Regions from separate parts of the Homo sapiens genome. Here region 1 is linked to region 2. A link means that fine-mapping ties the variant in region 2 to the expression of a gene that starts in the linked region. Tissue or cell type: whole blood. Region 2 holds a variant in brackets; the other region holds the start of a gene. All regions are shown on one strand. Distances are between the middles of the regions.

The links. PIP is the estimated chance that this variant, and not a neighbour inherited with it, causes the effect.
Region 1: PAX5 starts here. The variant in region 2 is fine-mapped to the expression of PAX5 in whole blood (TOPMed, PIP above 0.99).

The regions. Positions count from the first base shown.
Region 1 is chr9:37,032,408-37,036,588 of GRCh38, reverse strand. It overlaps PAX5 (paired box 5), which reads left to right and starts at 2,321. Exons shown (of 10, transcript NM_016734.3): 1 at 2,321-2,603. The coding sequence starts at 2,558. RefSeq lists enhancers at 166-215, 1,609-1,658, silencers at 749-908, 1,989-2,168, 2,435-2,555 and a promoter at 1,737-2,175.
Region 2 is chr9:36,995,750-36,999,930 of GRCh38, reverse strand. All of the region lies in intron 5 of PAX5 (paired box 5), which reads left to right. Among named protein-coding and RNA genes, the nearest start is that of PAX5, 36 kb to the left of the region's middle. RefSeq lists enhancers at 40-89, 1,747-2,261, 2,262-2,777, 3,279-3,779, 3,681-3,840. The variant G/A (reference allele first, on the strand shown) is at 1,617.

The DNA.
Region 1 (4,181 bases), 37 kb before region 2:
GCGAGGTTTTGACGACCAGCGGGCGCCCCCTCGGGAACCACATTTGTTTCCCGCTGGTCTCGAGCGTCCAGAGCGCGAAGCGGCGGAGCACGGCGAACCTACGATTCGTGATGCTTGGCCTAATCCTCTGCCCTTCATGGGTGCGGGCAGGAACGGAGTAGCGGCTGATGTCCCCTCCCTAATCCCAAAGCCCCACAAAAGCCAAAATACACACGCAAACTCTCACCAGCGCATCTCACAAACACAAAAACTAAAGACAACACATGAAAATATAACCCGATCCCCCACCAAAACGTACAGTTCAAAAAAATAAAATTCAAATCGAAGGAAACAAAACACACACAACACGAAATTCCCTAAGGCAACACACACACAGACGACACCCACTCACACCAAATCAAAACACATCTAAACACCGCGGAGAAGGAAAAGCCTTACAAACGACACACAAAAAGACAGCCTACAAGGACAAAGTACAAAATTACACAAAATCAAAACTCACCCCAAAGACCAGGACTTACAGAGCAAAACCCGCTAAAATCAATCCCACGAAAAAACAACACGCAAAACACCCGAAACAAAAGAATATCCCATGGAAAAATGAAAACTCACAGAAAACAAACAAAAACAAAACAAGCCCTCTAAATGGAAACAACAACAACAACAAAACACCAACACCCCCCGCCCCCAGCCCGGGGTGAAATGTCAATTCCGGGAGGGCTTTTGATCTCCAGGCGCGGACAGGCCGCTCCTCCCAGGCGCTGCCTCCCGGCGCGGGCGAGGCGGGAGGGCGGGAAGCCTGGGCTGGGGCTGGGCTGCGGAGGGAAAGAGTCGAGCACTCGGAGATGGCCAAAAATCAAATCTCGGGGTAGGGACACGGGCCCGCAGGCTGCAGGGAGGAGGCGGCGCTGGGGAACTGCGCAGACCACTTGGTGGGGGGGCCGCCCGGGAATCCACAGCCACATTTCCGATTGTGGCGAAATCTGCTCAGTGGATATGTGATGTCCAGTTGCCGCCGGGGGCCCCCCTTTCCTCGAGCTCTAGGCTCTTCCCCCTAGGTTGCGACCCAGCCTCGTGACCACCCCCTCCAAAAAACAAACAACACTCTTGCTGAGGACGATTCACTCTCCAAAACTGCCATTGTCCGGCGGGCCAGGAGTCCTCCTACGGAGCGCTCCCCCGCCCTGGAGAACCTTTCCCCTGCGACCACCCCGCTGCAGGGCCCCACAGGCTTTCAGTGGCTAGGCCCAGCAGCTGAACTAACTCAAGGCTGGGGAGGGGAACAGGGAGGGGAGGCTTGAGTCTGGCCCGAAGAGAGAGGGCTGGACATGCCACACCTCTGCTCGGTCTCTGTGGATCTGATTTCCTCTCTGGAATCAAGTCCTGGGGCTCTGGGACTCCACAACGTCTCAGGGCTCGAGGGCAATGCGATTCCACTTATGGGCCGGGGTAAGGTGTCTGGAACTCCCGCCAATCTCCAGAAACTACTGAGATGTTCTGCTCTGCCCGGGTGCTCCAAAGCGGAAGCCCGGATTTCATCTCCAGTATTTCACAGCTTAACCTCCATGCTCTGGGCCAGAATGGAACTTGATGTGGGGAGGGGTTCTGGGACTAGAAGACTGGATGGGACCTGGGGGCTTTAGGGATCTGGCGCTGCCCTAGGGTCAGGGGCCCAGCAATAGTCAGGACCCCAACAAATTGGGGTGGGGGTTGGATGGCTGGGAACCCTGGGGTCGGGCGCCGCCCTAGGGGTGAATCGGAGTAAACCGGAACGTCGCCTCGGTGCCTGGCAACACTGCCAGCCTTTGCAACCCCTTTCAAAAGCACCTGCTTGGCCGAGCAGTTAATTTCTTCAAAAACAAAAACCCGGCCTGCGCTCGTCTAAGCAGCGGGGTTTGCACATGGAGATGTCACAGGCCCCGCGCACAGCGCAGAGGGCCGCGACCCCCAAGCGCATGTCTTAATAGAAGGTGCGGCTGGAAGACCCGGGCTCCCGGGCTCCGCTTCGGTCTGCCCCTTCCCGTAGGTGCGCTGGCTAGCGCCCGGCGCAGGCTGAAGCCTTCCTTCCCTCCCCCCAACCCCTATAAAAGTCTGGGGCGGCGCGGCAGCAGCACTGCTGCTCTCCCGGCTTCCCGCTCTACTCCGGCCGGGCCGGGTCCGCCACGTCTGGCGCGCTGAGCAGGCCCGGCCGCGCAGCGCCTACCCTTTCCTCGCTCCGGGCCGGCAGTGTGGGGCGGCGCGCTGGGGGCGCGGCGTGTCTGGGGACATCTTGTGATGTTGGCGAGAACAGGACATGATCTCACATGGCGAGAAGCTCTTTAGTTCCTTAATCATTTCACGGTGCCTTCGGACGCTTTTTTTCCACCTAAAACGTTTAGTTTCAGCTCAGTGATCAGCTACCCCAGCTCGGCGGGGGAGCGGAAGGCTTGAATTATTCCGACCTGTGAGCGGCCCCTGGCACCAAAAAAAAAAAAAAAAAAAAAAAAAAAAGAAAAAAAAAGGCACAAAAAAGTGGAAACTTTTCCCTGTCCATTCCATCAAGTCCTGAAAAATCAAAATGGATTTAGAGAAAAATTATCCGACTCCTCGGACCAGCAGGACAGGTAGGACCGCGATACGGGCTCCAGATGTGCAAACTCCGGGACACGGCCAGGCCTTGGTCCCCACGCAGGGTGACCCTGGAGGAGGAGGGGGCGCGCCGCATTTTCGTAGAGACTGTCTAACTGCGGCGTGTTTGTTATGTTTTTTCACCTATCTGTTCACACACTTCTGCATCAGTCCAAATATCTGTGAGTTTGTCTGTGTTTTTCTCTGTTTCTGAATGTTCACGCTGGCGTCCTTCCGGGGGTCTGCAAGTTAGGGCCTGTGTGTTTATATAAGGGACTCAGTGTGTTCATTACAGTATATGTATTTTTAAAAGATGTAAAAATATATGAGTTTGTGTCCAAAAGTTGTTTGCCTGTGTGTGTGTGTGTGTGTGTGTGTGTGTATCTTTATACTCGTGGGGTATTCGTGTGTGTTTATAAGTTAGTACTTGTGTATATTCTTTTGGGTATCCAAAATGTGTGTCTACTATGAGTGTTATTTATGTAATTCGGAAATATCTGAGTGTACATCCACTATTTAAAGGGTCTGCATTCACCTGTTATATCCCAAGTGATTTTTGGATGTGAGAAAGAAGTGGCTACACTGACCTTTCCATTTTTGGATGTCAACGGCTGTCCGATGCATACACGCCAATGTTCACATTGTGTCTCTAGGCAAACTCCTAGACGTGGGTCTGGGGCCTATGGAGATCCGTGGTGTTTAGCATGTGCATTGTAAGGCCCAGTGTCCATTCTATTGGGAGATAGGACCAGGAATGAAGGTGTGAATTCAGGGCATGCAGCCTCTTGGTGTGCAGTGAGCACTGTTCAGGCTACCATTTGTACAAACAGGTCTCCTGTGGCAGGCACAACCTTGCAGATGACAGCGGACACCTGTAGGGTTAGTTGTGACATTTCTAGGGACCCCCAGCCTACATTCACTTTCACCTAGACAAGCCTCTGACACTGGCGTGTGTATTTGTGTGTACACACAGACACACACACACTGTGTCCTCAGGTTTTATCCTGTGGGTGCCGCACCAGTGGAGGAGAGCACAGTGGGTGGATGCATGTGCATAGTCTGGGCATTCAGCTCTAGGGCCTGTATGCGCACAGGCCTCCCTGGCTTAGGTCCCCATGTGCCTCCCACAGGCCTGAGAAGTAGGTAGCAGGATGTGTTTATGTCTGAGAGGAGATAGCAGGGACAGTAGGCCTCCATCTGCCCTGAGGCATGAATCAGGTATGGGGGGCCTCTTTCACTCACTAGGCCACTGTGTAACTCCCACACAAACACTCTCTTGGCCCTGGCAAGAAGCCCCCTTCCCCCATCTCTGTGCCCTCTGAGAACCCCCATCTCTCCTCCAGCCTCAAATACAAGCCTAAGAGCAAAAAGGATAAACTTAGACCCCAAGCCCAGGACAACTTCTGGGGCATAACTGTGTTTCCAAAATTGTGGCTGGAGAGAAGTGAGGGCAGAGATCTGAGGCAGAAGAGTGCTCCCAGGATGAGGGCTCAGGAAAAGTTACCTGGAAACTCCTCTTCTCCATCCTCAATTCTCAGAAGGCCCTTCTCCCTGGCAGTGGGCTTCTCAGCAGA
Region 2 (4,181 bases):
TCTGGGGCTGGGCAGAGCCTGGGGCCAGTATGGGGAAGAGTTTCAATCAGAAGGGCATGATTAGCAGGTTGGATGCGGAGAGAGAAGTGAGACCTGAAGGCCAGAGGTTGGAGGAGAGCAGAGAAAGTAAGAAGCAGCCACTGGGGAAACAGGGATATTTCAGGCACACTGGCCGGCTGGCCCATGGCAGCTGCAAACCATGGATTTGTGAGGGTTCTGGCCTCCAGTGCGGTACCATCAGCAGCCTGAGAGAAGAATCATGGGGTAAGAGAGGCAATGGAGAGCTAAGAGGAAGACAGCTGAGGGTCCTTGCCCATTTTTCGGATGAGGTGACTGAGGCTTTGCAAGGTGGAGTTGCTTACTCTGCTGCCTAGTTCACAGTCATCCCCAGCTTAGACTTGAGTTTTGCTCTGAGGGCATTTCCTGGGGCCACCCTCCTGCCCAGATCTTGCAGAGGTGAACGGGTGATAGGATCCAACCACAGAGGGTAAGGTGGCGAGCAAGACTGGCAAGCTGAAATTCCTCTGATGAGGAGGGCAGTGGGTGAGGTGACACTGGGGGAAAGAGTAAGGCAGGGAGGGCCAGTTTTGACCAAAAGGATCTTGGGGGCTCCTCATAGGAGGTGGCATTTGAGAGCTGGGTAAAGGGAGGAGAGGGCATTCCAATCAAAGGCAAGAGAGATTGTGCCAAGTCTGGGACTCTGGTGAGCATGTGCAGGGAGAGGACCAGCACGGCAGGATTTGGAAAGGGAGAGAGGTAGAGAGATGTGGGTGGCTTAGACTTTGACGGAGGCTTTCGAACATTTAGTCTAGAAGCATTTAGGGAGATAGTTTTGAGCTATGTGTCTCAGATGCTCAAGAAACATTCACTCTGCTGAGTGTTTCAGGTAAAAAGATAACATGACAGTGACTAGCCCTGCACTATCCAACAGAAGCAGAATGCAAGCCACGTGTAATTTTAAATGATCTAGTAACTACATTAAAAAGAGTAAAAAGAAACAAGTGGAATTAATTTTAATAATATATTTTATTTAATCCAGTATACCCCAAATATCATCATTTCAACATGTCAGCATATAAAAAATTTGATGCTATATTTTCTCTTATTTTTGCTGCCAAGTTTTTGAAATCTGGTGTGTATTTTACACATGTAGTACATCTCAATTTGGATGCGAAACGTTTGACAGTTAAAGTTAGATGTAGTCCTACCAAAACAATAAAGCTGTGTTTAGTGGGACAAATATTTTACACTGCTTCTATTTTAAAATTAAAATTAAAATCAAATCAAATAAAAAAATTAGCTCCTCGATTGTACTGGCCACATTTCAAGTGCACAGTAGCTACATAGGACTAGCGGCTGCTGTATTGGACAACACAGCTCTAATACAAGTGCTTGGCACATAGTAGGTGCTCAGTAAGTGCTCCTTGGTAGAGTGGATCAGTCACATTCCTTTAGAGGGTTCACAATTAGTAACGAGGGTGAGTGGAGGGACCTCTACTATCCTCAGTCAAGGGTGCTTTTGTTTGGTATTTTGGGCTTCCATAGAAAGCTCCGAGTAGAGTTCTGGAGCAAAGACAAACAAACTAACTAGAATATTGTTAGGCCAGTGGATTGGC[G/A]AAGGGCCCTTTCAGTATAGAGATTCTAGAGTTCTTCCTAGGATGCCTGCCTCCAAGACCAGACTCGGGTATATGGCCACTATGTCCAAGTCTCAGATGAACTGTTCTTCAGCAGCAGGTAAGATCTCTGTGGCCTCTGGAGGAAGAGCTGGGGCTGGTTAAAGGAAGCTGCAGGAGGCAGATTATGGCTGAATGCAACATATGGCTTTCAGAAGCAGCCAGGCTGGGCCAAGAATGGAAGCTTTATCTTAGAAAGGTAGTGAGCTCTCCATCATCAGAGGTGTGAGCAGGCGCTGGACAAATGAGGAGCAGAAGAGTCAAGGATGACATTCTGGTTCGGACTCTGTGACTTTTGAGGCAGGCCTGTTCTAGCCTGGGTGGCCAATGCTTCTGTGCCAGTACTGTGTCTGCAAGTGCATCTACCCACTTGTCTTTCCCTTCTGCTGCCTGACCCTGAGGCTGCCACTCATGTGGACTTGACAGGGCAGGGGCCACAAATCATTTCTATCCCCAGCGCAGCCTCTCGGCACAGCCCCGGTTCACACGGATGCCTGGGAGGCCTGCGGGATGGCTCTGAGGGTCAGGCTGGGGTGCCACCCAGTTATGAGATGTCGCTTTGTCTCTTGGTTGGTTTGAACTGAGAGCTTTCGTCGAGGAAGCTGTGGCATGGCTCAGGAATCCTGCTGGGTGAGGGGAATGGAGGCTGAGTCAGCACCTCCCTCTCCGGAAGGCCCAGAGGAGGTGGTGGCAGGGAGAGACTTGGCAAAGCAGGCAGGGCTGTGAATAGCGGCCATGGGTGAAAGGGCAGCCTCAGACCCTGGGTTCCTTCCTGGGCTTTTGATCTCTAGTGAGACCTCCTTCCGCCGCTCTCCCCACTTAGGTCCCCTCCCTGTCCCCCTCACAATAACTCACAGGGCCCTGAGTTTGAAAGGCCCTGAACACACTGAGGTCAGCGGAGTGCGAATCCCTTTCACCAGTTTAGAAAGCTGACCTGTCCAGCCAGTGTGGACTGTGGGGGCCAGAGGTTTCTTTTTGGGCAGTAGGGGTACGTTGCAAGTGAGTTTCCAGCCTTCTGGGCTCTGGACTACCTTCTAAGGAGGGCACAGGAAGGGCAGCCAGGGTTCAGAGGTGGCCTGTCCTTTCCAGAAGATGCCAAGTCTGATGAGACTCTCATGGGGAGGTTTGTTGGGGGGCATTTAGCCAGGTGCTCCCATTATGACTTCCTTTTTGGGGATGCCTGTCTCCTGTCTGTTTTTGTGTCTCTCCCCATGTCTTTGGGGGTGCATCTCATTCTGTGTTATTTGGCTTTATTTCCTGTTTATTGAACCTTCCTCTGTGTCTGTTTCTGTCTCCCGGTCTAGCTCTCACTAGCTTTCTTTTTCGTACATACTCTCTCTCACACACACACTCTCTCTCTCCCTCTCCTTCTTCTCTTTCTCTCACACTCATTCACTCATTCAATTTCCTTTCTCTCTTGCTATCTCTCTCTCTCCCCAAATCCCCTCTTCCCCTGTCTCTTTCAGGCTGGACGCCCCCTCAGCCCTGCCCAGCAGACCTCCACGGGAGCTATGGCCAGAGGGAAGGGGCTTCAGAAGCTCACAGACCGTGCTGGGGCCCTGGGCCCCTCTGACATGGGCAGGTCCTGGTCTTTTCTCTCCTAGGACCCTTTTCCTTCCCTGGATGCATAGATGCTGTCTGCTGCTCCCGGGATGAGGGCAGAAAACAGAAGCAGGAAGTGGGGAGAGCCCTCTCAGAGCTCCCAGAAGGGATGGGTATGTGGAAAAGCTCAGGATTCCTGAGTCAGGAGTAATAGGCAGCCCCTGTGGGATTGAGAGTTCACAGATCTCTGATCCCTGGAGAGCCCCAAATAAGGTGTTGAGTCAAAGGCACAGGCTCATGGGCAGGGATGAAATGGTTTGAGGACTTCTTGTAGCGAGTTACTTAATCTCTCTGCACCTCCATTTTGTTATCTGGCGAATAGAGTTGACGCAAGCCTTGTGGGTTACAGTGAGAATAAAATGAAGTGAAGTGACAGCTGCCAAGGGCGTGGCCCCAGGGCCTGGCTGTAGTCAATGCTGAGTAGATGGCCACGGAGAGGCCTATGTTTGAGGACGTGAGGCCCGTCATGGCAGAGGGCAGCAGGCTTTAGCCACGGTCCTGTTGGCAGCTGGAACTGGCTGGTTCGCCCACCACCACCTTCCTGTTTGGAGCTGTGGAGCCACGGAGCGATTCCATAGTACTGAAGAAGCCGATTGCCTGCAGCCGGGAGCCCGGGGCATCCAGGCTGAACAACAGTGCCCCCAGGTGTCGGCTGCAGAATGAAGGGCCACTCACTTTCCTCCTCCTTTGCCTTTAGGAAGCTGAGTCTCCCAGCCTGCTTCATGGCAGAAGAAAAGGGTCAGGCCCCAGTTTTCCCTGAAGAGAGGCACAGGGAGCACAGGGGGGTGGAGGCCTCCAGGGTGGGGGCAGAGGGTAGCACCCTGGGCCTGGGAGGGCTGGGCGTCTGAGGGGTTGTTGGGGCCACCAGCCTGGACCTCGAGACTCCCCCATGGGAGCTGGAAGGGC